3 separate regions of the Homo sapiens genome follow, and regions 1 and 2 are each linked to region 3. Evidence: fine-mapped expression QTL. A gene starts in region 3. Each other region holds a variant in brackets. All regions are shown on one strand. Distances are between the middles of the regions. Region 1 overlaps EXOC2 (exocyst complex component 2). Region 2 overlaps EXOC2 (exocyst complex component 2). Region 3 holds the start of EXOC2 (exocyst complex component 2).

Region 1 (10,317 bases), 74 kb after region 3:
CTTCCATCCGCCAAATCAAGAAAGTGTGTTCTCTTTGCCGCAAGCGCGGAATAACACCGCTGCAGCCAGGCCTCACTGTGTGTGGGGTGGCTGGGGCTGTCTCAGAAGGAGGCCCATTGATTTGCATGCTGCATGGGTCATTGCTGCAGAGAGTCCTCATACTGGAAAGCAAGTGCTGAAGTGTGAAGAACGTGCCTGTTTGTGTCTCTTCGCTCAGTCCACAGGCCTGTGTCTTCTCCTGGCTTGGGGCTAGCTGTTTTTTAGAAGGTTTAAATCTGACCTTACACTGCCATCTAATGGAAAACATATCTGTTCAGGGTGGCAGGAATTGTCCGTGACTGAAACTGTGTGTTTCGATTCCTCGATGAAAACATTTCGTGAGTTTACACAGTAGGGTCTCTGTCACTTTCAGTCCTAACTCTGTGCTAGTGGATTTAAAATGCAGGCTTGGTTTGAAGTACTCAGAGCGTATGTTGCTTTTTCTGATGTGTCTGAGCCGGGACTTCACTTGGAAATGTAGAATCCGAAATCCAGTTATTCTGAACAAACGTAAGAGTTTTTACTCCGTGCTTCATTAGCTGTGTTGATATACTACCTCTTCCTTTCCTGTTACTGTTATTAAGGGCATTAGCAATTCTCTTCATTTGAAAGCAGCTCCCCTTTCGCACTCTCCTGCATTGTCATCTTTACGGATTTGTAGTTGTGATCGTATTTCCCACCTAAAACCCTCTGGTTCTCTGTTTGACAGTAGAAGTACCAGGTTCAAATCTCGACTGTTTACATATAACCTCTCAGAGGCCATTTCCTCATCTGGAACATGGAAATATTTAACTCAGTTATTGTCATGGGAATCAAATAATACTTAGGAAATTAGTCTGTAAGATATAAATAAGTATAAATAATAAAAATAATAGCAAATAACATTTTTGAGCATTTATCATGTGTCAGAAACTGCTAGGCTTCCACAAGCATTATCTACTCTGATCTTCAAAACATTCCTAAGAGGAAGGTATGGTGATCCATTCATAATGGAATAACTTCTCGAGATTATACAGGTGGATTGAGCAAACATCGAGATTGAACCCAGAGCCTGTGCTCTTAGCCACTGCTTATTACTGCTGCTTCCCGTTGGGAATACTGAGATGAGCCACCTGTACTTTTGCAGCTGTGTTACCCATGGAGCTTCATGGACTCTGGCATTGGTATTCATTTTTTGTTTTTTCTAACTCATTTATTTCACATTTTTGAGGTGTTTGCATAAAAGATCAGTATATTTAGGCATATATTTTGCAATAGAATATGGAATCAGGATGCCTTCACCTGCAATTAAGATTGATTTAAACAAAAATAAAATCTACTTTTTCATAATATACAATATTCATTGATGGCAGACTCCAAAGGTTGGTTGAGTCAGTCATGTCACCAAGATGTGAGGAGCCTGGGTTTGCTGGCTGTTCTGTTGCCCTTAGCATAAAACACATTTCCTTAGCAATTGTGGTTGAAACTGGACATAATGATGTTCTCAGGCAGAAAGATGGTGTCTCTTCTTGGTTTCCCTTCTTGAAAGTATGGAGACCTTTCCCAGATGTGCTCCAACAGACCTTCCTCCGACATCACTGTTCAAAAACAAGTTTATCCAATCAAGAGCAGGGGGAATATGACAAGCGCGGTTGGCTTATGGTGGTTGATCTCTCCCCAGTTAAGGGGCAATTGGGGGGCTGTGTTTCAGCAGAGAGGGTCCAGGGTGATTGGTGGGTCATAGCCAACAGTGTCCACTAGAAACAGGCTCTGTGTGTCCGGGCAAGGTTAGTCCTGGCCTTAATGGTGTGATTTGGGGAAGATTATTTGACATCTGTGTTAGAATTTCACCATCTTGAAAATAATGTCTGTCTTGTTCTTGTAAGGCTGATTTCTGCTATAAGTCTCAATACATGTCTTCCAATTAAGATCAGTGAAAGAGTTTTAATGTCTTCAGTAAGAACTCTCAGAATAATCAGCTCCGTCTTAGGGGAGGTGGTATTTTGACCAAGAGATGTAGTGCTTTTCAAATTGTACCTGGCCCAGTTCAGGGGCCTGAAGGAACGACGCATCCGGGTAGGGGTGCTGGCGGGTGGGTGGGGCTCGAATCTCAGAATCCAGCTCCAGGGGCTTGGGCCTCCCTGCTCACTCCAATGCAGAAGCCAAGTCTCAGGCTCTGCCACCCGTGTCCTCCCAGCGGCCTGTGGTGCACGGGATGTTCATGGCTGAAGAGCTGGGAGTGCAGGGCCAGTGGGGACCTCACCAGACCCACTGCTTTCTGGCCAGGGGCCCCACTGCTAGGGACTGGCTAGACCCATCCCTGCTCCTTCTGAGGATGAGGGAGGGAGGGACTCCTGGGGGTAGGAGAGTTTCTTAAAATCTTAACAGTCCCTCTCCTGGAGCCCTCCACTAGACATCAGGCCTTTATGTTATGATATAACTGAGAGCAGTTTAGATTTGTAAAAATAACAATTTAGTAATGCATTGTAAGTGAGATGTTACCAGAGTTTAAGTATCAGGGGAATTTTAAAAATGGAGTACAGAATGGAAAGCTCTGAGCTGCTGGTTTACATTGTTCAGTACCATCAGTACCACCAATTTAAGCATTGTAACTGTTTAGGACAGAGCCTTTTCTGTATGTGCTGTGTACATTCTGTTTTTTAAAACATTTTTTATTTTGGCTAAACACGTGGAGTATGACGTAGCTGCCAGACCCATGGGGACTGTGTGTTCTTAGCCGTTTCTCCAGGGCATGCAGCTGCTGTATTTTTGAGTTTTGTGTCTGCATTTTATACTTTCTTGCGTTACTTGCTACCATTGTGTCACAGATCCTTTCTTCACATCATCAGCTCTTAACGCTAGCAACTGCCGTTCATTCCCTGTTCGATTATGGGCAGAGAAACACCGAGGCACAGCGCAGCACCATGGGCGTGGGGGAGGGGCACAGAAGCTGTTTGACTTCTCAGCCTTCTTTCGTTTCTTTTTTCTCAGCTGTGTCCTTAGGTTACTTGGACTTGATCCCTGCTGGATGAGGATGTCTTGTACTTAAATCAGGTGTGAAGACTGTTGTTAGTAGGAACTTAGTTGATACCAGTAGCGCATTTTGATTCTGTTCAGACCATTTAACTCTCTGACCAAGTGAAGTGTGAGACACCACATTGAATGGCCGTGTCTAGAAGGAAGGTCGACAGAAACATGGTCTGCAGCCACCATGACTTCTGCCCGCGATGACACGCCTTACTAATTGGTCATGTCATTCTTTCTAGCTGAGTTGAGACAAAGCCCGTGATCCCTCACACAGTGCTCCAGGCAGATGCTGCCTGCCGGTTAGAGCAGGACTGCAGAAGGAGGCACTTCTGGGTCACTTAGCCGGGGTTCAGCATGTCACAGCTTAGCCTAAGCCTCCACTCAGTCTCTATATTCCCCCAAAGCTCTAACTTGGAGGCATGGGGTGCAGATAAATAAAGTGAGAAAAACTTCCAAAGGTGAAAGGATTTTCTTACTAAGTAAAGTATGAGAACCAGCATGAAGAATCCAAACCAAAATAAACTTCTAAAAACTCAAAGTTCTCCACCTCCCTCCCAGAGACTGCTGACCGGTGAAAAGGACCAGCAAGTAATGAATGCCACATGCATGTATCGGGAGGATTCAGACTATAAATCTTTTAACTCGTGAAGCTAGTGAGAAAAGATGCACGATCGACTCAGTCTCGGTGGAAGTGGTGCCACCTCCCAAAATCTCATCTGTCTTCTTTTCTGTTATCATCATTCTAAGCAAGGCATCCCCCACCCAGTCAAAAAAGGAACATAGTGAAGAAGGACAGTGTTACCGAATGTGAATGGGACGCCCTGTCCTGGCTGAGATGCTCACGCAGTAGGCATTAGACTTTGGAGTGAGTGGCGTCTCGCTGTGCAGGGTTGATAGAGGAACTCCTCGAGATCTGGTTTTGCAGCTCACATTCCCTGTTCTTCTAGGGACCACAGAGGGAGAGGATGTGTAGAGAGGCAAGGAGGGTTTGTGCAGAGATATCTGTGGGGAGAGCTGGGGTAGGCCATGAAGTGGGAGGATGCAGAGCATGTGACCGTCTTCACTGAGGCCTGGTGAGTGGGACCTCCAGGTGACAGTGTTCCCTGCAGCTGTGAGACACAGAGCCTGCATGGACAGTAGAGGTGGCTGCATTTTAGGGGTGTTCTCCATGTCCAGGTGTGCAAGCACCTTGCTAGAGAGAGTGGGCTCCAGGCCATTGGAAGTTGTGCCTATGGGCACTGGTCACCTGAACGTGGAGGGGCTCCAGCAGGGAGTGTCTGCGGTAAGACTGAGACCACTGGAGGCTGAGGAGTGGCAATAGGAAGCAGATGCATCCATGAGTCATGGCTGGAGGAGTCCTCCAGAGCCCTTTAGGGAACCCGTGAAAATGCCCCCAAGACTCAAGTAGGTTCGAATACCTGGCAGGCAGAGAGCACAGACCACCTATGGCAGTACCAGGCACAGGCCCCGAAGGACATTCCATTCTTGTCTCTCTGTCCATCCCACCCTTAACCTCTACGAGAGAGCTGCCATTTTTCCCCCAAACGAGTAAGCAGCCTATTAACTATTGACCTTGGCTGGGAAGAGGGAAGAAAAAAATGTTACCTTTGGGTGAAGTTGGAGTGTGGATCACGAACTAAGCTGCCTAATTTCTGAATTGAGGCTGTGTTTGTAATGAGGAGACAGCAAGACTCTCCCAGAGAATACCAAAGTCATCGGACCTACCCACATTAAAATTCTTTTGGGGTAGGAGTGTTTTCCCCACTGCGTAACTGTTAAAGAGATACTACCCTATCAAATGATCTGTGTCTGGTTTATACCTTATGAGTTGGGCTTGTCCAGTGTTTTGGGGTAGGGGACACATCTTAGAGGGGGCGGCAAATCAGACGAACAAAGTAAACCCCAAGATGGTGGAGACCAACATGCGAGACAGTATAGTCCCTTTGAGGCTGCCGAAGCGTCAGGTTTCATGCCTAGAGTGGCAGAAATGAGCCCTGAGGGACAAGCAGATTCAGTTCATAGACATGCTTGGATTTCATCCTGCAAATGGGGCAGGGGGCGCCAGCAAAGGCTGCCACGTTGTGAGCCTCGGTGGGTACATCTGGCATCCCAGCATGGAACCTGATCTATTGTCGATACTTGATTAATAGTCGAACGAATATATAAATGAATTGATCCAGAAGTCAGTCTTAAACATGTAGGCAAGATGAGGGAGCAGCAGATTATGTATATACCCTGTTGTTATCACAAGCTTTTCTTAAAGTCATTCTAGACATGGACGCAAATGTGAGTGCTTTGTGATTAGATGTGGTTTTATTAGTACTTTGATGATTTCTTAGTATGTCTTAAAACAACTTTCATCTAGGTTTTAACAAAAATCATTTTAACAAAGTGATTTAATATTTTAGAATTTCACTGTATTCAAATTTTGATTTTTATACATTGAATGGGGATTGATGTCATATTTTGATAGGTTTAATAAAACTGTCAACTCAGCCAGATGTCTTAATCCTCTTTAAACCTTATATTCTTTTATTGATGTAATTTCTGTATTTCAACTAGTTTCCTATCTTTTCTATATAAAATCAAAGTTTAAGTGATAGAAAAATCAGCCATGATGTGGGAAATATATTTTGTACATATATACAAACATGTTCTGGGTAATGTATGATTAATATGTATTGTTGTAATGGTTAGTATTCATATGTGTTATACTGGATACTTAGTGATACCTTTTCCATTTTTGTCATAATAACCATTGAAATATATTTTAAACGTTTTTTCCCCTCAGAAGTAAATTTTCGCAGAAGGACTTAGAAATGCTATTCCATGGAATGAGTGCTGATTTTACAAGTGAGAATTTCTCAGCAGCCTGGTATCTTATAGAGAATCACTCAAACACCAGGTTAGTGGATATGGGACTGTCAACTGTGAAGGGTTTCACTCAGATGCTAAAGATGGAATTACACGGTAACTCGAGTTTTAGGTCTGGCTCTGCATACAGTTACATGGTTTTAGGTCTGCGAGCTCTTTGACTTTGC[G/A]TTTACCCGTGAACATCTCAGGGTGTCTGTTTCCCTGTTTGTGCAATGGGATGATTCTTTAGAGGTCTCTCATTTCCTACTGTCATTTTATGTTCAATATATTTCATTATTGATGCAGGTTATTAAAAATTTATGGAGCCTTAGCTGGGGACTTAAACTGACATGTATGAATGTGATCTCTCCCTACTCAAATAACATAAAAATTTTAAGTTCTGGGGTAAAACATGGAACACACTGCCTTCTCTGACCATAGGGCAAAGGAAGATGAGTTGGTTTATCATCATGTAAGGACCTGGCTTAAAATTAGCAAAAAAGTAGACAAGGTCATATATCCAATTTGAAGGTTCCCTTCTGTCTTCTAATTACATTTTACTCTGTACAAGAGCAAGTTTGTAGCTTATTTGCAAGATTGATTTAAAATAATTATATTCAGCAAAAAATGTTTGGATAAATCAATGGTTTATTGCTTAAAACTTAAATTATTGATAAATTAGTGTGTTAAAATATACCTTAATATAAATGTTTCATTCATTTATTAGGGTGAAAAGCATTACTAGAAAACATCAGGAAAAGTTGGCATTTTAATACACAGGATAAATTTAACCTGATTGCTTTTTAAAGCAAATGTCCAAGATGAGGAAAGGTTGGCATTTTAATACATAGGGTAAATTTAACCTGATTGCTTTTTAAAGCAAATGTCCAAGATGAATTTTTTCATTGTAGAAGATGATTCTGATTTTACATTACAGATGTAGAATTTCTATTATTATAAGTCAGAATTGAGCTCTGTTTCTTGTGTAGGTCTATCAAGAATACGTTTAAAGTTTTATAGCCGGATTTTCTTAGCTCAAATGGACATAAAACTTCTGAAATACAGAGGCCTGTCTTTAGTTTTCTCTGCTTTAGATATTGAGATGAGATATTGTGGTCTTCCTAGTTATTTAAGTTGTGAATCGACCCACAGGATTCATGTAATTTTATGACTAAGGACAGAGGACTGGATACTGATAAGTATAACATTATGCTTAGTGTTCCACAATGCTTCAGTGAATGTACAAAGCAGTTCCATCTTTGAAATGTTGTCTATCACTGGATGATCTGTGTCTTCTTACCTAGTACAGGATGTTCAAAACTCTTTATCTGGTAAATTGTATATATTATATATAGGTTATAAAAACATCTACACATTTACTTCTTAGGGGTCTAATGTATTTGGAATTACCATCGAGGGCTCCGAAAGTCTTGTAGCTGTTGTAATTTAGGCATTCATAATAAATAAAAGGTTTAGATCTACGCAACAATTTGAAAGCTTTTTGATTTCATCTGGCTTCGTATGATATTAATCTGTGTGCTACTTAGCATCGGTTTTAGCATATTTAGTGTTCTCCACTGAAGGAATTATTTTTTCTTTCTTGCATGTTAGAAGTGTCAAACTTTGGTTTCTTTATTTCATTTCAGTTTTGAGCAGCTCAAAATGGCAGTCACCAACCTAAAGAGACAGGCTAACAAGAAGAGTGAGGGCAGCCTGGCCTATGTGAAAGGCGGTCTCAGTACATTCTTCGAAGCACAGGATGCCCTCTCAGGTAAGGCGATCCTCAGAGCCATCTGCTGGCAGCTTCCGCCATGGAAACCCGGCACTGCCTGCAGGGTGTTTACAGGGTGTGACACTCGGTCTGTTTTTATCAAAGTAGAGATCTCAAATGTGCTATAAATATTTGTTGCAGAGTAGGCTGGCATCTCTTTGAAGACTTGGTACTTTAAAAATTTATCTCTGAGGCTTTTGTTAACCCATCTTACATGTGTGAAATGGGAGACTACTTTAACTCTCTGTGATGTCCACACTCCAGGGCTGATACGAAATTAAATCCCAATGCACAACCACCAATATCTTACATATGTGACTAATTCTATAAATGCAACCCATTGTGTGTTCACTTTGGAAAGGCTGATGATAGGATACCAGTCTCTTCAGCCCTTATCGCACAGGCGCCCACGTATGCACGCAGGTAGCTGTCACTGTGCCATCTGTGTATGGGAGGGACGTTGTATGGAGTACAGATGTCATAGCTTTAGACATTTTAATGCAAGATGTTGGTAGAGTTTTTTTTTTATAAAACTGCTTTTAATTAATGAAAGTTTAATTATTGCTATTTAGTAAAAAGTAATCTATATCAATAAAAGTTAACTCAATTCTTTTTAATAGCTAAGATACTTAAAACTAAATACCCATATAGCTTAAGTATCCATAACTCTAACCATGCATTGAGGCCACATCTTCTTCAATTCAGGAAGGTAAATTTTAAAAATTATTTTTATTCCTAAAGTATAGACATTCTTTTATTATTTTAAAAGTCCCCCTCCTCCCTCTCTACTAAAAATACAAAAAATTAGCCAGGCGTAGTGCATACCTGTAGTCCTAGCTCCTTGGGAGGCTGAGGCTGGAGAATTGCTTGAGCGTGGGAGGCGGAGGTTGCAGTGAGCCGAGATCGCGCCACTGCACTCCAGCCTGGTGACAGAGCGAGACCCCATCTCTAAATAAATTAAATAAATAAATAAATAAATAAGCCCCCCTCTTCCTGTGCCATATATACTTAATTGACCTCCAACACATTAAATGTGTATGTGATGCAGTGTATGTGATGCAGCTTCTTCCTTGCAGGTAGAAGTTAGTTTTTTTTTTTTTTTTTTTTTGAGACGGAGTTTCGCTCTGTCGCCCAGGCGGGAGTGCTGTGGCGCGATCTCAGCTCACTGCAAGCTCCGCCTCCCGGGTTCACGCCATTCTCCTGCCTCAGCCTCCCGAGGAGCTGGGACTACAGGCGCCCGCCACTGCGCCCGGCTAATTTTTTGTATTTTTAGTAGAGACGGGGTTTCACCGTGTTAGCCAGGATGGTCTCGATCTCCTGACCTCGTGATCCGCCCGCCTCGGCCTCCCAAAGTGCTGGGATTACAGGCGTGAGCCACCGCGCCCGGCAGAAGTTAGGTTTTTGAAGGGGTAAAATGTGAATGTCTAAGAGGGAACAGAGAAGGTAGGTGCTCTTCCTGATAAATATGTGTGCCTTATGTTTCTTGATGGTGTGCCATTCTTTATTTGTGCTTATTGCTCTTCTCTCTAAATTACCACTGACAGCACATAGAGCAACACAGAGAGATCCACTATTGTCAGTGGACTATGTAGACTAGGAATTACATGGTTCAAATTTGACAGAGCTGATATGTAAAGTTGCTCGGGTAAGTTGTTTTTACTTTTCTGTTATGAAAATTTTGAAATGTGAAAAGTGGAGATGAAAGTATAATCTCCCAAGTAAGGGCAAGGACATTTATGTGCATAATCACAATGATATTATCATAGTTAACCAAATTGGCAATAATTGTTTAATATCATCTCATTCCCAGTTCAGATTTCTCAAATTATCCCCAAACTTTATTTTTATAGGTGATATGTCCAAATCAAGATTCAAATAAAATTCAGGCATTTCACTTAATTTTTAAATCTCTTAAGCCTCTTTTAAACTAAAACCATCCCCTCACCTTTCTTACCCTGTTTCTGGTTTTTCTTTTTTTTTTTTTTTCTTTTGAGATGGAGTCTCACTCTGTTGCCCAGGCTGGAGTGCGGTGGTGCGATTTCAGCTTACTGCAACCTCTGCCTCCTGGGTTCACATGATTCTCCTGCCTCAGCCTCCCAAGTAGCTGGGATTACAGGTGCCCACCACCACGCCCAGCTAATTTCCACGCCCAGCCTGTTTCTGGTTTTTCATGCTATTGATTTGTTGAAGAAACAAGGTCATTTGTCCTGGAAGATATCCCCCACTCTGAATTTGACTGATGACTTCCTTGTGGTGTCATTTAACTTATTTTTCTTGCCATTAAATTGCTTGGACTCATCTAATTGGATATTAGATAAGATTCACTTTCAACACTTTTAGGCATGGATAGTGCTGTGCTTCCTGTTTCATCACACCAGGCAGGAGTGCATTCGTGTCTGGGGTCTCCTGAACAGACACTGCAGTGGATCAGTAGCTTCAAGGGGGGACTGGGAACGAACAGGTGAGACAGATAGATAAATATGTATGTATACACATACATACACACACACACACACACACACACACACCCACACCCACATATACTTTTCAAACCTCTACTGTCTCTGCTTTATTTTGGTTTGTTTTCCCTGAAATTCTCTATTAAGATTTTCATGTTTTATTAGCATTGCATTCTAATTTTTAAATCA
Region 2 (10,317 bases), 160 kb after region 3:
CATTTTTTTTAGTTTTGAATTTTAATATTCTATTTTAGTCTTGGCTAGAAGTATGATTTTAAATTTCCAAGCTAAGGGAGCAGAGGAGCAGTTGGAATTAGTTTTCTCTTTGTTAGAGATTTCTAACATCATTGTTCTGAGGTCAGAGAATATCATGTTTTTAGGTTTGCTGAGGCTTGCTTTGTAAGCTCATATGTGGACAGTTTTCTGAAACCCTACCTCGGTTGAAAAGATCGTGTCCTTACGTTTTGGATACCACATTCCACAGATGTCTATTACATCGGGTTTGTGGATTATGTTGTTCAGTCCTTTTGTTTGTTTGGTTTGGACTTTGATCTCTTGATTACTGAGAAAAATGTAGTAAGGTTTTTCCTTGGCTCCTTTTTAGATACTTTATTTGCCTCTTCTGTTCTGTATTTTTATTATGTGTCTTGGTATTATTATGTTTTTTGGCCTGTTTGTTCCCTTGGCTCTGGTTGATGTCTTTAATCAATTCTGGAAAGTTCTAAGCCATTATCTCTTCAAATATTTTTTCTTCTCCATTCAAACTTTTCTGTCCTTTAAGATCTCCTATTGGGTGTATGTTAGACCTTCTCACTCTATTCTTCACATCTCTTAATTTTTTTCTTTTTTATTCTCCTCATCTTTAATTGTCTGTACTGATTGGGGTAATCTCCTCAGCTCTCTCTTTTTGTTCCTTGTTTCTTCAGTTGTGTCTAATCTTGCTGAAATTTACTGTGTATTGAAATGTTATTTCAGTTGTGTTTCTTCTCCAGAAACTTTGTTTTTTGTTACTAAGTAAGGGGAAATTATTAACTTACTCTGGAATGGTATAATTCAGAAATCAGGGAAGGAGATAGTGGTAGCAGTAAAGTTCTTTCCAGTGTCTTTCCGATTATTCTGTATAGATAGAAAATCAAATCGTCAAGGATAAGATTATCCTATTGAGAACAGTGGAGCAAACAATTGAAGCCTAATATATAGGATGTGAGGTGACTAACTTGATTATTAAAAATTCCTGGCTGGGTGTGGTGGCTCCTGCCTGTAATCCCTGCACTCTGGGAGGCTGAGGTGGGTGGATCACCTAAGGTGAGGAGTTCAAGACGAGCCTGGCCAACATGGTGAAACCCCATCTCTACTAAAAATAAAAAAATTAGCTGGGCATGGTGTGCGCATGTGTGGCTTGGAAGCCCTCGCTAACAAGTCCTGGAGACACAGGCTGTCCTTCTGTTTCAGGTGACAGTATATCCTGTTTCATCTGTAGTTTTCTTTTTTGTGTTAATACTTCTCCTAGGAATTAAGAGGTTTTTTAAAATTAGTTATTTACTTGGCATTTATTTTGCCCCCATTTGACAAGTTGTGGTTCAGTAATATAAAGGAATGTCAGTTTGCCACCTGTCCTGCCATCCATTTGAAAAGAGCTAAAAAAAATTAATTTGTCTGAACCTAGTTATCCAGAGTCACTTGGATAGATGTTCTAATGATAGTTTGATGACCTTATTTCTATACAGATGGCCAAATTGGAATGAAAATAATTGTTTGTTGTTTATTTTCTTTCTTGGAAGCATAATTTTTAAAAAACATTATTATCAAAAAGTTTTTAAAATCACAAATTGGAAATTTTAAATTGGAAACATTAAAATACATCAAAATAATGATGTTATCTTTTAAACCATTGTGACTGTGTTGAAGACAACAGTAAAGAAGTTAGAGAAATTTGACAATCGACTTAGGCATCTCTTCTCCAGGACTGTCCATTGGGAGCACTGGCTGGCATCAGTGCCTGGTGCGTGAGATGGAAATGTTGTTGAGTGTACGTGATTGCTGCTAAGAAAGGCAGGGCGGTGGCTTATTGGGAGCACTGGCTGGCATCAGTGCCGGTGCGTGAGATGGAAATGTTGTTGAGTATATACATGATTGCTGCTAAGGTGGCAGGGCGCTGGCTTATTGGGAGTATTGTCCATTACACCAGAATTCTGCCTCCAGCATACGCCTTTTACTTCTGTAAGTTATTACCCACAGTTTTTTAATGCTTCGAAAGACCCTCCTCAGTGCTAATATGTACGAATTCAGTGAGTAAGTCTATTTCTGAATACAGATATTCCTGAACTTATGATGGGGCTACCTCCAGATAAACCCTTCCAAAATTGAAAATATCGTAAGCGCATTTTCTACTTATGATATTTTCTTTTTTTTTTTTTTCTTCAGACAGAGTCTTGCTCTGTCACCCAGGCTGTAGTGCAGTGGTGTGATCTTGGCTCACTGCAACCTCCGCCTCCCGGGTTCAAGCAATTCCTGCCTCAACCTCCCTAGTAGCTGGGATTACAGGCACCTGTCACCACAGCCGGCTAATTTTCGTATTTTTAGTAGAGACAGGGTTTCACCATCTTGGCCAGGCTGGTCTTGAACTCCTGACCCCGTGATCCACCCGCCTCAGCCTCCCAGCGTGCTAGGATTATAGGCGTGAGCCACTGTGCCCGGCCAGATATTTTCTACTTACAGTGGGTTTAACCTGACGTAGCACATCATAAGCCAGGGAACATACTGAATGCGCATTGCTTTTACACCCTGGTAAAGTGGGAAAATCATGAGTTGAACTCTCATAAGTTGGGACTGTCTGTACACAATTAAATTGTTATCTTTTTTAAAGGAGGCACTGTGTTTTTGTTAGAGACACCTGCCCTAAAAGGCCACTGGACCCTCAGGCATGTCTACTCTGCTGCCTTTCTCACCCCCATCAGTGACCCTTTAGCGCTCCGTCTCTGTTTAACCACTGCATTCCTTAAACACATCACTTTATAAGACTGATTTCCTTAGTGTCAGGATGTTTTTAAAGTTAATCTTTCTTCCTCACTCTCAGATAGCGATTAATGGTAGATGGATCTGACCCTTGCTTTTTGAGCAGGAATCAAGCAGACCCAGTTTTCTATGTTCAGCAGCCAGTGTGAACAGGGTGTTAGTGAAAATGAGGCTGTTGAGTTAATAGAAATAGCTGCTAGCATTTATTATGTATTTGCTTTCAGTGTGCTATGCAAGTTTCCTGAATTATCTGTTTAAATCCTTACAACAAAAAGTATGAGCTGTGTACTCCTGACATTGATCCTGCCTCATCACACATTAATACTGCCATTCTACTCTCTTTTTGTAGCATTTGCCTATTAACTGTTTGCACATCTATTTATTTTCAACTCCTCTTTTCCCTTCTTTTTTTAAAAAATGAGGTGTAATTTACCTACAGTAAAAGACACAAATCTTAAGCTTATGGATTGATGGCTTTTTACATATGCACACGTTCCAGCATCCACCACCAGATGAAAATACAAAACCTTCCCTTGTGCCCTGTTTGAGTAGGCTCCCTTCTCAGCAACGTTCCAGCTGCTATCTGCAGAGAATCATTTTGCCTGTCCCAGAACTTTACGTGGAGTTCCATGCAGTTTGTTGTCTTTTGTATCTGGCTTCTTTTGCTCCAAATTAATTTTTTGAGATTCATCCAGTTGTGTGTACCAGTGAGTCATTTTCTTTTATTGCTGAGTTTGGATAACCAGATTTTGTTTAATCATTCTCATGGTGATGGACATGGGGTTGTCTCCAGTTTTAGGCCTTTATGGATAAAGTTGTGGTGAATATTCCTGTAAGTCTCTTTGTGGATGTTTGTACTCACTGATCTTGGATATAAACCTTGAAGTACAATAGCTGGTCGTGGCACAAGCTGATTAGGAACTCTGAGTAGTTTTCCAGAGTGTACACTCCATCGGTCATCAACTCGAGTGTACGCTCCGTCGGTCATCATCTTGAGTGTACGCTCCGTCGGCCATCAACTCGAGTGTACGCTCCGTCGGCCGTCACCTCATGTGTACGCTCCGTCGGTCATGAACTCGAGTGTACGCTCCGTCGGCCATCAACTCGAGTGTGCGCTCCGTCGGCCGTCAACTCGAGTGTACGCTCCGTCGGCCGTCATCTCGTGTGTGCGCTCCGTCGGCTGTCAACTCGAGTGTACGCTCCGTCGGCCGTCATCTCGTGTGTGCCCTCCGTCGGCCGTCATCTCGTGTGTGCGCTCCGTCGGTCGTCATCTCGAGTGTACGCTCCGTCGGTCGTCAACTCAAGTGTACGCTCCGTCGGTCATAAACTCGGTTATAAACTGCATCCTAGCCAACACTTAATATTACCAATCTTGTTTATTTCAGCCAGTCTCATTGTTGCTTTATTTGGTTTTCCCTAACAATGATGTTAAGCACCTTTTCTTGTATATTCAGATACATTCAGGTAGCTTCTTTCTTGAAGTGCTGTTTAACCCCAGCTCATTTTTAAATTGGATCAGTCATCTTTCTATTGACGATTTTTAGAAGGCTCTAAATAAGTCCTTTGTCATGCATACATATTTTTTCAGTTCATGGCTTGCTGTTTTGTTTTTATAATATCTTTTGAACAGAATTGTTTAATTTTGATGAGATCCATTGTATCAAGCTTTTAAAATGTTTAATGCCTTTCATATGTTGTCAGAATCTTTACCTGCTTCAATGTCCTGAATATTTTTTCCCAGAAGTTTTGTAATGTTAACTTTTATGTTTAGGTCTATGATGTCTATCCTTATGCCAATATTGCATTGTTTTATTTATTATAGGTTTATAGTCAGTCTTGATATCAAGTAGTATGAGTCTTCCAACTTTGTTCTTTTTAAATTGTTTGGGCTATTTTAGGTCCTTTCCATTTATATATAAATTTTAGCCTGTGAATTTTTACCAAGAAAAGGCCTTTTAGGGGTTCATTGAATTTGGAGAAAATTACCAATATTGATGATCCTATTTATTTGTTTAGGCCATCTTTAATTTCTTTCAGCAGTGTTTTGTAGTTTCCATTAGAGATTTTCCATGTCTTTTGTTAAGTTTATTCCTAGGTATTTTATTTTTTATGGTATTGTATTATAATCCTTCGATGTCTATTATATAGAAATATAATTGATTTTTGTTATTGACTCTGCTGCCTCCATAAATTTACTTATTCCATTAGTATGTCAACCTGCTTAGAATTTCTAAATACGTAATGATGTCTTCTGTTAATAAAAACAGTTTTACTTCTTCTTTTTTGGTATTATTTCTTGCCAGATCTCATGGACTAGGACCTCTGGTATAATCTTGAAATAGTGGTGAAAGGGGACAACTTTGCCTTATTCCTGATCTTCTGGAGAAAGCACTCTATATTTGTACCATTTTGTAGATGCCCTTTACACAGCTGATTTTCTTTCTAGTCTTAGTTTACTGAGAATTTTTGTCATGAAAGTATATTGAATTTTCTCAAGTGCTTTTTCATCTGTTGAAAAAATACCACTTCTGCATGATATGTTTTTAAAATTTATTTATAGTTTCTATTTGCCAATAGTTTGTTTGGGTTTTTATGTCTTTGTTCATGAAGGCTATTGGCGTGTGATTTTTTTCTTA[C/T]AATATCTTGCTCAGTTTGGATATTAGGGTTATACTGGCTTCATTAAACAAAATAGGAAATGCTTTCAGCCTCTATTCTATGAAAATGTTTGTGTGTGCTATAATTTCTTCCTTACATGCTTGGTAGAGTCACAAATGAAACCACCTGGACCTGAAGTTCTCATTGTCAAGTCCTTGTCTATAATGGATTCAATTAGTTTAATAAATATAGGACTACTTGTGCCAGTTTTTGAAGGTTGTGTTTTTCAGCAGATTAGCAATTTCCTCTATGTTGTCAAGACTTGATGGCATAAAACTGTAATGTCCTTTTACTATCCTTTTAATGTCTTCAGGATCTATAGGAATGTTTCTTTTTTCATTTCTGTTCTTGGCAATATGTGGGTTTTTTTCTTTATTTCTTCATCAGTCTTGCCCAGGAGCTTATCGTTTCTGTTGTTATTCCTTTTTAATTTTTAAAAAATTTCAAATTTTTTAAGAGACAGGGTCTTGCTCTGTTACCTAGATTGGAGTACGGTAGTTGAATCATACCACGCTGCAGCCTCGATCTCCTGGGCTAAAGTCATTCTCTCACCATAGCCCCCAAGTAGCTGGGACCACAGATGCGCACCACCATGCCTGGCTAATCATTTTTATTATTATTTCCAAAGATCCTACTTTTGGCATTGGTGGTTTTCTTTAATATTTACCTTTTTAAGATATTGATTTCTGTTCTTTATCTTTTCCTTCTATTTTCTTTGGGTTTAATTTTCTCTTTTTCTAGATACTTGGGGCAGAAAATTAGAGCAGTGATTTAAGTTTTTCTCCTTTTAAACTTTTCTTTTAAAACATTTTCAGCTATAAATTTCTAGCCACTGGTTCTCTCTTGCAGATTTTGATATGTTATCTCTTCATTGTGTGTTATTAGTATTTCCCTTTTGGATGCCTCCTTCCTTTGAAGAAATCTTACTTCACACTTGTATTTCACATGTCCAGGGAGTCTCTAATCATCTATTTCGGTTTGTGTTTATAGATACTAGAGAAAGAGAGAGATAAAGAAGGGCGAGAGGGAACTCAGAGTTATTGCCTGTCACTGTTTTCCTCAGTAGTTCATCTTCTTCGTTCTGATGTGTTTGATTTTAGGTTAGAGCCCTTTCTCATTACATGGGTGAAATACTCCTTGAACCCTTGCATATCCAAAAATATCTTTCTCGGACTCTGTTAAGAGAATGACACGCTGGCTAAATACAGGATTCTTGGGTTCTGTTCTTTCATTCCTGTAGATTTTAATCCAGTGATTTCAGCTCCCAGTACTGCATGTGAGAAATCTGACGTCAGACCAGTTCTTTCTTCTTTGTAAGTAAATTATTGTTTTGATCTAGAAGCTTGAAAGTCAGTCTGTCTCTGTCTCTCTCTCTCTCTCTCTCTCTGTCTCTCTCTCATTTAGAGTAAATGTATTAGAAACTAGAAACTTTAACAGTAGTTGCCTAGATATGTGGGCTGTCTTACCAGTCTAGCCTGGCACTCTGCAAGCCTACTCAAGTTGCAAACTTGGGTCTTTCTTTAGATCCAGTTAAATTTTCTCCTACTGCTTGTTTAATGAATACCTTTTCTCTATCTGCTTGTATTTCTTTACTTGAATTTCTATTTTTTGCATGTTAGAGCTCCTGGGTTTATCTTCTAGTCTTGTTGTTCATAGTTTTCATGTCTTTACACTTTTACTCTATGTTTTGAAGTAGTTCTTGCACTTCAGATCAGTCTCAACAGTGACCAGGAGTTCCTTGTGTTAATCTACTCATTTGTTAGCTTTGGAAGTTGTATGTTTCACCTCTGGAAATCTTGTTTTGTATTATACTTTAATCGTCATGAGGGTTTTCTTTCTTTTTTCTGTTCAAGTTGTTGCTTGTCTCTTCTGCAGCTGAGTTTCACTGCTTGGTGGATGTGCCTGTGCATAGCAGCGGACTCCCTTAGACGTGTGTTTATTTTTCACTGTAGTTCGTTGCAGCTCAGGCCTGGCATTGGAGAGAAGCCTATCCCTCTCAGGCCAGTGCTGCAGAAGCAGAACGGCCACCAGCCCCCTGCAGGGTGACCTGGGCCCACAGACTCTCCACACCCCAGACTTCCCATATCCTCCATGCTTGGGTCTCTGCCTCCCCCCTCTTCTTCTTCTGGCCTCCTGCCTGCTGGTGAGACAAGGCACACTCACGTAGGGCTGATGCCAGCCTCCTTACCCTCTTCTGCTCCCACTCCCATCGGGAGCCCCCACAGTCCATGCAGCTGAACTGTGCCAAGGACAGGACTTACTGATAGGGGTCTTTCCTGTTCCTTTTTGCCCATGACAGCGAGCGTGTGTCTGGCCTCCCTGTGGAGTTGCCTTAGACTCGAAGGCCTGACCTGCACGCCCCTCAAGCAGAGCTGTAACTGGAGGGAGAATCCAGGGGAGCCACACTGGGGTTACTGGAGTGTCAGAGCAGGCTTATTTTCTATTGGTCACACTTTTCAAATGAATTAGTTAATATGAAGAAACAGAACATGATTTTAAATGGTTCCTTTTTAATTGTAGTTTACTGGCTATTACAATTTAGTATTTATAATGCCTCTTGCTCTGTGTACAGAAATGAGTGGTTAGTATTTTCAAAAATGAATGATATGGTTAGGCTTTCTGTCCCTACCCAAATCTCCTCTTGATTTGTAATCCCCATAATCCCCACGTGTCAAGGGAGAGACCAGGTGGAGGTCATTGAATCGTAGTGGCCGTTTCCCCCATGCTCTTCTCATGATAGTAAGTTCTAATGGGATCTAATGGTTTTATAAGGGGCTCTCTTCCCCTTCCACTGGGTACTTCTCCTTCTGGCCACCTTCTCCTTCTTCTTGTGAAGAAGATGCCTTGCTTCCCCTTTGCCTTCCACCAAGACTGTAAGTTTCCTGAGGGCTCCCCAGCCATGCATAACATAATTGAGTCAATTAAACTTCTTTCTTTTATAAATTACCTAATCTTGGGCAGTTCTTTATAGCAGTATGAGAACGGACTAATACAATGACCTGTAGTCCATATATGGAGATTATTTTTTCTCCTGCAAAATAGCTATGCTAAAAGAGATCTTTGTTACTGAAAATATATAAAAGTCACGAGTTTTTGTAGGAAAATTGAGAAGTGCTTTTATTATAGTCTGAAGTATTTATTGTTAACATTATTTTACTTTTTCCATCACCCTCAAATAGGCAACTCATACTCTTCATTATGTGTTTATAGGTTAGCATGGCCTCATTGAAAGAACTAGATCAAAGACTCTTTGAAAATTACATCGAGTTGAAAGCAGATCCCATCGTTGGCTCCTTAGAACCTGGAATTTATGCAGGATATTTTGATTGGAAGGACTGCCTGCCTCCAACAGGTAAGTAATAAAGTTTCTTGAGTAATAGATGTGGATATACTTTTATCAATTGATACTTGCTTGAATTCTTTTCATTTTATTCTCATTTTTCTCATATCTACTGAGAGTGAGAGATTAATTTGATTTTAACTTTTTGTTTGCTTAAACCCATTTCTTGGATAGTTTGGAAATTGGACACTTTGTATTATTAGTGGCTTAAAGCTGTTCTTAAATTCTAGAGAATAATTAATGATAACTTGTAATAATTGATCGTTTTAGTAATGCATTCCTGCTTCCTGTGATCTTCTCACATAGATACAATAGAGTGATTGTGAGTGACAGTGGCATGCAATGACCTTGTGTACATCATCAAAAAATGTATTAAAGAAATCTGGTCACTTCTATGTAAGACCTGATTAGTGATGCTGTAAAGGCGAAGGATAGGAGAAAAGTGTGTAGGAGTAAGATTATTATAGTAATTTAGCAAAGAGAATTGAGCCACAGAAGGATGAATGACACAGTTCAAGTATTATCTTTGTGATTTCAAATGAAAGTCACTTGAATCACTTCAAAATATATATTTTTAAAATAACTATTGCTTTCTGAATCAAGTAAACTTTTGATTGATCAAATAGTTGTTTCTTTGTATGAAATAACGTGGAATACCTAAAACCAAGCTGCCTGTTGGCACTTTTGTAGAGAAGTAGTTTATGTAGAAGTGGTCATGCTGGTATCGGACACGGGTTCTTCATGGGTGTACATATGCAGATATAACAAAGCACCAGTGAGTTGTTAACAGGTTTGGTAACTTCATTGTTTTAACCAATCACTTTAACCTCCTTTTGTTTTTATTGTATGGCACTTATACTAAACGATGATAAAATTGTTTACTGTTTAAACACCTTTGGTTTTTATTGTATAGTGTTCACGTATAGTGATGCCAAAAGTGTAAACTAAAAACTGGGATCATTAAATTAGCCACAGTTACTTAATGTGACCACAGTTATTGAATTTCCTGAGCTCACAGTCATGGCAGTCATGCCAGCCCTTATTCCTCATGTGCTTTTCTGTGCACACACTTTTCTGTGCACACACTTTCTGTGCCCAAACCACATTCAGTTCATACCCTCAAAGTACATCCTTTTAAAGTTTAAGGCAGGTTCTATCAGTATCTTACTTAAAATTCTTACAACATCTTCTCATGATAGTAAAACCGGGGAAGCTGTGCTGTGCCCACCTCTGCCCTGGCACTCTGCCCACTGCCCCAATGCTCCACCTCACAGCCCCTCTCCAGCTGGACTCAACCTCTGCCTTTTTGAAAAGCTCATCCTTCTAAAATATAAATTGGATCCTGTCAATCCCCTGCTGAAAAACCTTCGAGGAGGCTCATTCTCCCTGAGGCTAACCCCAGACTTCTCAGACAAGGTAGCATCCCCACAGGTACCAGATTCCACGGATGCTCAAGTTCCCAGTGTGAAATGGTGTCATATTCGCATGTAACCTATGCACATCCTCCTGTATGCTTTAAATCA
Region 3 (10,317 bases):
ACTTCCCCGAGGGAGACTGGAGCAGCTCCCTGGGACTCTGCCATGCAATGGGGCACGTGCAACCAGCCAAGCTACCCCCGCCAGGGCATTTACACACCAACTCTTTGCCTGCCATTGGCCGAGGCCTTCTTCTGAATTAACTCTCTAGGGCTTCCAGCTTGCTCTGCTCCAAAAAGAAATCCCTCAAGCACAAAGAGAGATGCAGGTGTTCCCAGAAAGCAGCCTTCAGTTGGGGGAATCTGGATGGGCACTGATGGCCTCTGTTACCATCCTGCCTGGTATGGCGGATCCACGGCTACAGATCTCTGTCCTGGCCCTGATTCCTCATGATGGTGTCCAGTCATACTTTACTGGGGGAAAAAACCCACCTCAGGAGGGTCAATAGGTTGGGCTATAATGCCCACTGCTGCAGTTAGTTCTAAGGCTACAGTGATTTTCATCATCTTCTTCCTTAATCACCCGGCTCCGTTCTCTTCACCTGCAGCTAGCACTTCTGTGGCCCAGGCTGCTTCCTCAACGAGGTGACCCAGACCTTCTTCCCTGTGAGGTCTGAGCCCTTGGTTATCATTCCTTGTCAGGCCAGGGTTGCTGCATTGCCAGTTTACTGGTATCACCAGCCAAGGAAAAGATGCCCAGTGAGTCCCCTGCATTCCAGAAATAATCCTCCCTCCCGTTTCCTACTCATAACCAGGACCAAATTTTGTTGCCTGGGATCCATGAGGATCCCAAGTAAGGAGAGGCTTTTAGATTTAGTGAACCCTGTGTCACCCAGGAGAGCATCTTCGGCACATCCCAGGGGCCAGGACCCTGGCTACTGGGGATGCTGCACCATACACTGATATTAGGCTCTGAATATATACTGCATCCCACAGCACAGCTTCCAACTCTGCTGGAGCGTTCGCTGTGCCTTTGTGGGGCCATGCTGATGTCCTATCAGGGTGGCAGTCTGGGGTGTGCGATCTATGGTGGAACCAGTGGAGCTTGCGGTCACGTCCCCTCTGTCTGCCTCTTTCGCTCTTACAAGGGTGCTTGGTCCAAGGTGGTATTATGGGAAATCCTGTGATAAGGCAAGACATTCTGTAAGCAATTGGGTAGTCATGCCTGGAAGGCTCTACAAGCAAGGAAGACAAACCCAAACCCAAACCCAGAATATGCATCTGGGCCTATGGAAATCAACTTGCCACCGAGAGACGGCAGCCACCATACCATGGGCTGCCCATTGGCCTCTACGGCTGGAGAGGGCAGAGGCACTGTCTAGATCTGCCTTTTTCTGTGGGTCCCTGTAGCCTCCAACCCTGTGAATGGCCATTCCATTCACAGGCCCATTGTGCAGAGACTGCCTGACCTGCCCTAGCTGAATCATCCCATTTGCTCTGTGCTCTGCTGCGGATGCTGTCTGCCGGGCAGGCATTTGTGTAAGACACATAGATGGGCCAAATACTGTTTGTGTGAGGAGCATGTGTGAGTTCTTGAGCTGAGAGGCTGTGATATCCACAGCATGGTTATGCAGCTGCTTCCTGGCCACCCTCCTCTCCATCCAGCTCTTATGTTTCTCCAGCAGGTCTCCTACCTTTGGGAATTTCTGCACCAAAAGCAGGCACATACTCTTGGTCACATATAGTCCTGAGGGCAGCCCAACTCCGCCAAGAACTCCACACTGATGCTCAGCTCCACTCTGACAGCAGCAAGCACAGGCTCGTGGGTGCCTCGAGCCAACAGGTACTAACCCAGATTAAAACAGCTGAGTGAATTCCTCATAAGCTCCAAAAGGCATCTAACCCAGATTAAAACAGCTGAGTGAATTCCTCATAAGCTCCAAGAGGCGTCTAACCCAGATTAAAACAGCTGAGTGAATTCCTCATAAGCTTCAAGAGGTGTCTTACCCAATTGCTGGGGGCTTTCTTTTCTTCCTTTTCTTTTTTTTTGACAGCGTCTCACTCCGTAGCCTAGGCTGGAGTGCAGTGGCACAATCTCGGCTCACTGCAACCTCCGCCTCCAGGGTTCAAGTGATTCTCCTGTCTCAGCCTCCCAAGTAGCTGGGACTACAGGCACGTGCAACCACGCCCGGCTAATTTTTTGTATTTTTAGTAGAGACGGCGTTTCACCATGTTAGCCAGGATGGTCTCAACCTCCTGGCCTCATGATCCACCCGCCTTGGCCTCCCAAAGTGCTGGGATTACAAGCATGAGCCACCGCGCCCGGCCAGGGGGCTTTCTCTATAGTGCGGGGAGACTTTAGGGTGACCATATAGCGTCTAAAAGGAACACTTTTGACAGTAAAAAGGGCACTCAATAATTAAGCCTTCATAACAGACACAAATCAGTCATCCCACGCAAAGTGGAACATGTGGTCACCTTAGTTATCTGCCTTCTTTGCCAGTTCAAGTGGCCAATTCCAGGATAACCAGAAAAACCCATCTAAATATCCTGTCACACCAGCTTAAACCCCATGATCCTGTCTGATGTTATTTCTCTGCATAGAACCCGAACTCCTCTGTTCCCTGCTCCATCTTCTGTGTCAAACTCCAATCTCAGCTACAACTAATTTTCTAACTCCCTGCCTGCACTAGAGCAGCCAAAACAACACAAGCAGGCCGACTGGTTCCATTTGAGACTTAAGACCACACATCCCAAGTGGGCATTCTGCCCTGCCTGGCAATCTGGCTACATATCCTTAACAATTCGCCTTACAATGTCTAAGTTAACAATCTCACCCCTTCTCAGTCCTCCCTCGTCCCCACCCCCTGCTCACAGATGATCTTGTTGGTTCCTTTGTTAACACAGAAGCAACCAGAAGAGTATTTTCTCACTTTCTCCTCACCATGTCTACCAACCCACAGCTATAGCTTCACATTCCGCTCACTCTCCTACTACACAGCTCAACTCTGGTGGCTCCTAAGAACAACCTCTGCCCTCGTGCAACAGGTCCTACCCTCTCTTACCTTTCTCAAAGACTTGCTCTGCAGTTGCTCCCTCTCTCCTGCATCAGCGGTTCCCTCTTTACATGTTTTGTTAATAGCTCCCATCTTAAAACAGACTTTTTCCTTGATACCATGCCTCTCTAGCAACTACCGCCCATCTCTGCTCCCTTTGTCACACAACTCCTCAGAGGGGTTGTCAAAGTAGCCAGATGAAAATACAGAACATCCAGTTAAATGTGAATTTCAGATAGTAACAATTTAGTATACGTATGTCCCGTGCAATATTGGGGCCGTACTTTTACTAACAAATACTAAAACTGTGTCTGGAATTGGTAAGTTCTTGGTCTCACTGACTTCAAGAATGAAGCCGCGGACCCTTGCGGTATGTGTTACAGTTCCTAAAGGCGGCGTATCTGGAGTTTGCTCCTTCTGATGTTCAGATGTGTTCGGAGTTTCTTCCTTCTGGTAGGGTCGTGATCTCGCTGGTTCAGGAGTGAAGCTAGAGACCTTCGCGGCGAGAGTTACAGCTCATAGAGGCAGTGTGGACCCAAAGTATAAACAGCAGCCAGATTTACCCCAAAGAGCAAAAAAATAAAACTTCCACAGTGTGGAAAGAAACCGGAGCAAACTACCACTGCCAGCTCGGGCAGGCTGCGTTTATTCTCTTATCTGGCCCCCACCCACATCCTGCTGATGATTGGTCCATTTTACAGAGAGCCGATTGGTCCATTTTACAGAGAGCTGATCGGTCCATTTTGACAGGGTGCTGATTGGTGCGTTTACAATCCCTGAGCTGGACACAAAAGTTCTCCACCTCCCCACGAGATTAGCTAGACACAGATTTTGGACACAAAGGTTCTCCAAGTCCCCACCAGAGTAGCTAGATACAGAGTGTCGATTGGTGCATTCACAAACCCTGAGCTAGACACAGGGTGCGGACTGGTGTGTTTACAAACCTTGAGCTAGATACAGTGTGCCGATTGGTGTATTTATAATCCCTGGGCTAGACATAAAGGTTCTCCAAGTCCCCACCAGACTCAGGAACCCAGCTGGCTTCACCCAGTGGATCCCGACCGGGGCCGCAGGTGGAGCCGCCTGCCAGTCCCGAGCCATGCGCCCACACTCCTCAGCCCTTGGGTGGTCGATGGGACTGGGGGCCGTGAAGCAGGGGGCAGCGCTCGTCGGGGAGGCTCGGGCGCACGGAAGCCCATGGCGGGGGGGGTTGGCTCAGGCACTGCAGGCTGCAGGTCCCCAGCCCTGCCCCGCGGGAAGGCAGCTAAGGCCCGGGGAGAAATTGAGCACAGCAGCTGCTGGCCCAGGTGCTAAGCCCCTCACTGCCCAGGGCCGGCGGGTTGGCTGGCCGCTCCGAGTGCCGGCCCGCTGAGCCCACGCCCACCCAGAACTCGCGCTGGCCCGCAAGTGCCGCACGCAGCCCGGGTTCCCACCAGCGCCTCTCCCTCCACACCTCCCCACAAGCTGAGGGAGCCGGCTCCGGCCTTGGCCAGCCTAGAAAGGGGCTCCCACAGTGCAGCGGTGGGCTGAAGGGCTCCTCAAGCACAGCCAGAGTGGGTGCCAAGGCCGAGGAGGTGCCCAGAGCGAGCGAGGGCTGTGAGGGCTGCCAGCACGCTGTCACCTCTCAAAACAATGTTTTAGTAGAAGTATATCCCATGCAACATTAGTTTAGTGATAAATATATCTATACTACAAATTACTTGTTGTTTATCTGAAATTAAACTTTACTGGGTATTTGTATTTTTATTGCTAAATCTGCCAACCTAGGTTGTTGAAACTTACTTTTTTCCACTTCACTTAATATTCTTTTCACAGTCCACTCTGACGAGATGTAGCTTCCCCACACTCCTTTGAAACTGCTTTTGTCAAGGATGCCAATGACTGGCATATGCCAAACTCAATTGTCTCTGGAGTCTTGGCCTCACAGTACTTCTGAACATTGGCTATCAATTCCTCCTTCCTGAAACTATTTAGCTTCCAGAATCCGCTACCCCCACTTTCCTGATTGTCCTTCCTCCCTGGCCATAGCCCCTGAACCCGAGCTTCCCCCAACCTAGAGCATCCCCTGACCCTAAGTATCCCCCCAACCCTGAGAACCCCCTGACCCCGAGTATCCCCCGACCTCGAGAACTCCCCGACCCCGAGCATCCCCCCAACCCCCAGCATCCCACGACCCCGGGCATCTCCCCCGATCCTGCGCATCCCCTGACCTGGTATGGCGCCCTGACCCAGTGCAGCCCTCAAACCCCTGCAGCCCCCTGACCCCATGCATCCTCCTGACCTAGGGCTGCCCCTGACTCAATGTTGCCCCCGGACCCCAGTGCCTCCTCCTGACCTGAGGCACGCCCCCCAACCTGGTACAGTCCCCTGATTCCAGTGCATCCTTCTGACCCAGTGCTGCCTCCTAACCTGGTGCATCCTCCTTACCCAGTGTGGCCCCCTGGGGATGCACACTCCAGTGCATCCTCCTGACCTGATGCTTCCTCTGGTCTCGGTGCAGCCCCCCTGACCTGGTGCAGCCCTCTGATTCCATGCATTCTCTTGACCTTGTGCATCCCCCTGTTCCGGAGGGGTCCTCTGACCCGATGCAGGGCCCATCGTTGTGAACTGTGGCCCACAAACGCACTATCATCCCACAGTCTCCCTGAGATGACCCGAGGGCACGGGGATGGATGGTGCACCCGGCCTGCCCCTTGAGCTTGTATCCTTCTTTCCCTCCCTCACCGCTTCCCGCCACCGCAAAGACGCCCAGCAAAAACCTCCTACTCGTGTCCATTCAGGCAGCTGGGTCCCTCGGAACCCAAGGCATTCCAGCGTCCACCGCCCACGGCCCCTGCTGACCTCCAGCACCCGCGCCGGTCTCCTCCCCTCCTCTACCCTCCCCTGAAGGCTCCGCCCATCGAGGACTCGGCGCTCGACTGCCAGGCGGATCTACACGCTCGGCGCTCGCGGCGGGCGGAAGTGAGGTGCCGGCGGCTGGCGGCCGCGGAGTCTTCGGCGAGACCTACCGGGCCCTGTCTGTGCCGGCCGTGAGCTGCGGCAGGACGGCTGGAGGTATGTGTGGGAGGCTGGAGGGCCTGGCCGAAGGCCAGCGGGACATGGACGTCAGCTGCACGGAGGTGGCCGCCTGCGGCGTCCGTCCAGGCCTCAGCGGTGAAGGGACAGCCGCGCCCACTGGCGCCGTCGGTCACCTGCGGGGCCCCGCGACCCCCCGCGGTTCCCAGCCCCGCAGCCCCCATCCCCGCCGTCAGCCGCCTGCTGGGCTCCGCGCCCACCCCCGCCAGTTCGCACCCCCGCGGTCCCCACCTGCGCCGGTGAGGGGCGTGGGCTGCAGAGGGCTGACTCCAGGCCCCGCCCGCTGGAGCTGGCCCCAGACTGCGCCGCTTCGCCCTTGCGCAGTTGCCACTCCGTGAGATTTGAGAATTTCTCCGGAAAAGTGAACGCGAGGCGGGTGTTACCTGTCTGCCTAGGCGTGCATCCCGCTCTGGCTGTCCTGAGCGCTTAAAAGGCGCCTGCCGCTGTTGTCAGCGTTTGCGTGCACGTACTTGATCCTCGCGCGGGTGTATGTACGCTGCCGTGTGACCCATTTTACGGATAGGGGAGCGGCGGCTCAGAGTGCTTGAGCAAAGAGCCTGAGGTCCTGTTGTAGCTGCCATTGAGACCTTGCGCGCCGGCTCCAGGTCCGCACACCAGCAGCCTGGAAGCCTGGTGATGCGTAACCCTGTATCCCAAGATTGTTAAGAAAACACTTTAGTAATTCCGAGAAATAGTTCTTGAAAGAACTCGTCTTTGAATGGAAGTAAGTTATTTTTAATCTGCCAAAGGTCAACATACTAATAAGTCTGAGAAATTTTAAGTCTGATGCCTTTATGAATCTGTGAGTAAACTTACAAGGAACACTTAAAAAATATTTTTTCTAAGTTAGCCACACTTTAATTAAATCTTTTTGTGTGCACTATGCAATATTGAAAAGTTACTTCTGAGCTTATGTGGATCTGTCTTCTAATGCATAATAATGTTTTGTTTATGAATGTTAGTATGTACTGGCCCATGCTTTGTGTAACTGACTCCTTTAATGACAAATCAACTGAAAGCCAGAATCTTCTCAAAGATGATTTTTTTGTGCTAAAAGTTGGCGATTCCCAGAGTAGTAATAGAAAGAGGGTGATGTGTGCTTAGTACTTACATGTTCACTTGTTTGTCTAAGTAGAAACTTAATAAATTAAAGCAGAGAAGCAGAGTTCCCCCAGTGTGACTTGGACCAACTCTTGGAAGTTTTAGAAAGTGATCTTTTTTTCTTGTCAAGTATTTAATTTCCTGTATTGAATGCCATTTTGAACTACAGTTGACCCTTGAACAACACTGGGGTTAGGGGTGCCCACGCAGTCAAAAATTTCCATGTAACTTTTGACTTTCCCAGGACTTTACTAATAGCCTACTGTTGACCAGAAGCCTTACTGATACATAAACAGTTGACTTACATGTATTTTGTATGTTATACGTATTATATACTGTATTCTTAAAGTAAGCTGAGAGAGGAAAATGTTAAAATCACAACAAATGTATTTACTCTTCTTTAAATGAAAGTGGAGAATCATGAAGGTTATTATCCCCATAGTCTGCATGAGTAGATTGTGGAGGAGGAAGAAGAGGAGGGATTTTCTCAGGAATGGCAGAGATGGAAGAGATGGAGGAAGTGAAAGGGGAGTGGGAGATGCAGGCACACTCAGTGCAACTTTTGTTGAAAAAATCCGTGTATAAGTGGATCTGTCTCATTCAAACCCATGTTGCTTAAGGGTCAACTGTATTACTTTTCTAAAAGATGGTTATTAACTTGCTAAGTTCTTGGGAGCCCATTATGTAAGAATCATATGGGAAATGAAGTTGGTACTGAAAAAATAGTCTTCTAGCAAAGAACTTTTAATATTTCTAGTGTCAAGCAGCAGCAAGATTAGGCCATACAGGAAGTGCTGGTTACAGAGGTGTCCTCTCAGTTACTTTTCCACTCATTCTCCAGTTTACGCATCTTAATCCAGCCTGGGTTCCTAGTCCAGCGTCTGCCACATAGTAGGTGCTTAAATGTTTATTGAATGGATGAATTTTAGGTCACTGTTGAGAGGATTTTGAAACTGGGAAATAACATTCATTGATCACTCTGCTAAGCGGTGTACTAGGATGTTGATTGTACTCAGATCCTGGGGAATATGTTCTTGGACCTTCTGGACTGCCTGCTGAAATCACATGGTGATAGTGTGGACTTCTAATCATATGCTTTAGAGTATGTTTATATTAGTCAAAAATTATTATTGATATGAATACACAAACTTAAAAGTAATTGTAATGAAATTATGAATCTTTTTTGTATTTTTAAAGACAGAGTCTCACCCTGTTGCCTAGGCTGAAGTACAGTGGCGAGATCTCTGCTCAGTGCAAGCTCTGCCTCCCGGGTTCACGCCATTCTGCCGCCTCAGCCTCCCAAGTAGCTGGGACTACAGGCGCCCGTCACCACGCCCGACTAACTTTTTGTATTTTTAGTAGAGACGGGGTTTCACCGTCGCGATCCTCGTGACGGTGGACCTCGTGATCCACCCACCTCGGCCTCCCAGAGTGCTGGGATTACAGGCGTGAACCCCTGCGCCGGGCCGGGAAATTATGAATCTTAAAGCGATGGGTGACACACGCATCGGCATCCTTCAATCTCAGTTTGTTTATTGATTGAAAGGGGGTCTTGTTCTGTCACCCAGGCTAGAGTGCAGTGGCACAGTCACAACACACTGCAGCCTTGAGCGCCATGATTCCAGAAATCCTTCTACCTCAGCCTCCCAAGTAGCTGGGACTATAGGTGCGTGCCACCGGGTTCGGCTCATTTTAAAAATTATTTGTGGAGGTGAGGTCTTCCTACGTTGCCCAGGCTGGTCTTGAACTCCTGAATGCAAGTGATGCGCTGGCCTCAGCTTCCCAGTGCTGGGACTATAGGTGTGACCCACTGTGCCTGGCTGATCTCAATTTGAAAATCACAGAGTCAAAAGGTATTTTTGGCTTAGGCGTCAAAGCAACTATACACTGGTCCTTGGTCTAATCTGGTCTGCTTCATAGTACTGGCTGAGTTGCTTAGATGCTTTGGACTGTTTCCTTTTTTGTGTATTCAGAGAATACATGCAGTTAGATTATCTCTGAAATCCTTCCTGCCTTGAAATTTTCCAACTCAGTGAATCCTATAACCACCTAGCACTTGTCTTATAGCACTTGTGTTGTGTTAGGGACAATATTATTAATGGTGTTTACATACACCAGTAAAAGACTAAGCTCATTCTGGATCGGGATTAGTTTTAATTATTTTTGTATCTTCCAGTCTTACTGTATGCCTGACACATATATTAAAAATCAAATAATATTAGCCTGGATTCATAAGGGGTATTTTTGCCCTCTCAATTAAAGAATAGCTAAGAACTAAACTCTGTAGTATTGAGTGTAAGTCCAGCAGAAGCTCAGAGGTAGGAAGGATCCGTTGGGGCTAGAGTAATTGGGAAGCTTTGATGATAAGAGCTTGATGAAGGAAGGCGTGTGAACACCTGGGCTGCATACCAGGAGCAAAGGCCCAGGGGCTGGTAAGTGAGTGCATTTTGGATTATGGGTGGAGTGCCTTGACTGACAGGCAGAAGAGTTTGGAACTGATTTGTTAGACAGTTCTTTTTTGTTGTTTGTTTTTCCTGGAAAGTTTTATTAGGCCAGCTCAAAAGCTTCCTGAACATCCTTTACCTTAATTCCCTTGGTAGCATTTCAGATTAAAAATACATCATCCAGTTTGCTTTATTTTTGTTTTTGGGTTTATCAGTTTTTCTATGTAATATTTTCCACAGTAAATCTTGGTGCCAATAATGGAACGAACACTGGACACAGGACTGGGGAAGACTGGATTTCAGCTTAGGAGAAGGTGAGCTGCTCAGGGTGGATCCAGAGAGCTTCAAGACTAGTGCCCGGCACATCTTAAGCACTCAGTGACAAGTGCAGCGTTGAAGGCTTTTTTCCCTTTACTGCTTGCTAACAGTGCCACTTTGCACAAGGCTGCCCCTTCGTTTCATTTGTAAGCATGGATGAATTTTTAAAGGCCTTTTCTCATTTTAAAGGTTTGTGATTTTGGAGGGCATATGATTTAACTTTCATTGTATTATAATTTTAGCAAAAGACAAAACGAGACAAAAGGCCATGTTTGGCTTTAGTTTAATTTTAATGAAAACCCCATGTGAATGATAATGATGTATGTCTCAGCAGGAATCAGAAGTCATGCCAGATAGCTCAAATGAAGAAAGGTGCAGAGGGGATTAGGGAATATACAAGGAGTGGTGAGGAGCAAAGGGAAGCTAACAGTAACCAGAAAGGACAGA

What was found. PIP is the estimated chance that this variant, and not a neighbour inherited with it, causes the effect.
Region 1: its variant is fine-mapped to the expression of EXOC2 in whole blood (INTERVAL, PIP 0.92).
Region 2: its variant is fine-mapped to the expression of EXOC2 in whole blood (GTEx, PIP above 0.99).

The regions. Positions count from the first base shown.
Region 1 is chr6:615,063-625,379 of GRCh38, reverse strand. It overlaps EXOC2 (exocyst complex component 2), which reads left to right. Exons shown (of 28, transcript NM_018303.6): 5 at 5,837-5,950; 6 at 7,545-7,669. Among named protein-coding and RNA genes, the nearest start is that of HUS1B, 37 kb to the left of the region's middle. The variant G/A (reference allele first, on the strand shown) is at 6,087.
Region 2 is chr6:530,958-541,274 of GRCh38, reverse strand. It overlaps EXOC2 (exocyst complex component 2), which reads left to right. Exons shown (of 28, transcript NM_018303.6): 23 at 8,665-8,806. Among named protein-coding and RNA genes, the nearest start is that of HUS1B, 120 kb to the left of the region's middle. The variant C/T (reference allele first, on the strand shown) is at 5,436.
Region 3 is chr6:688,688-699,004 of GRCh38, reverse strand. EXOC2 (exocyst complex component 2) reads left to right here and starts at 5,866. Exons shown (of 28, transcript NM_018303.6): 1 at 5,866-5,986. RefSeq lists enhancers at 3,715-4,223, 5,653-6,539 and silencers at 6,107-6,166, 6,177-6,246.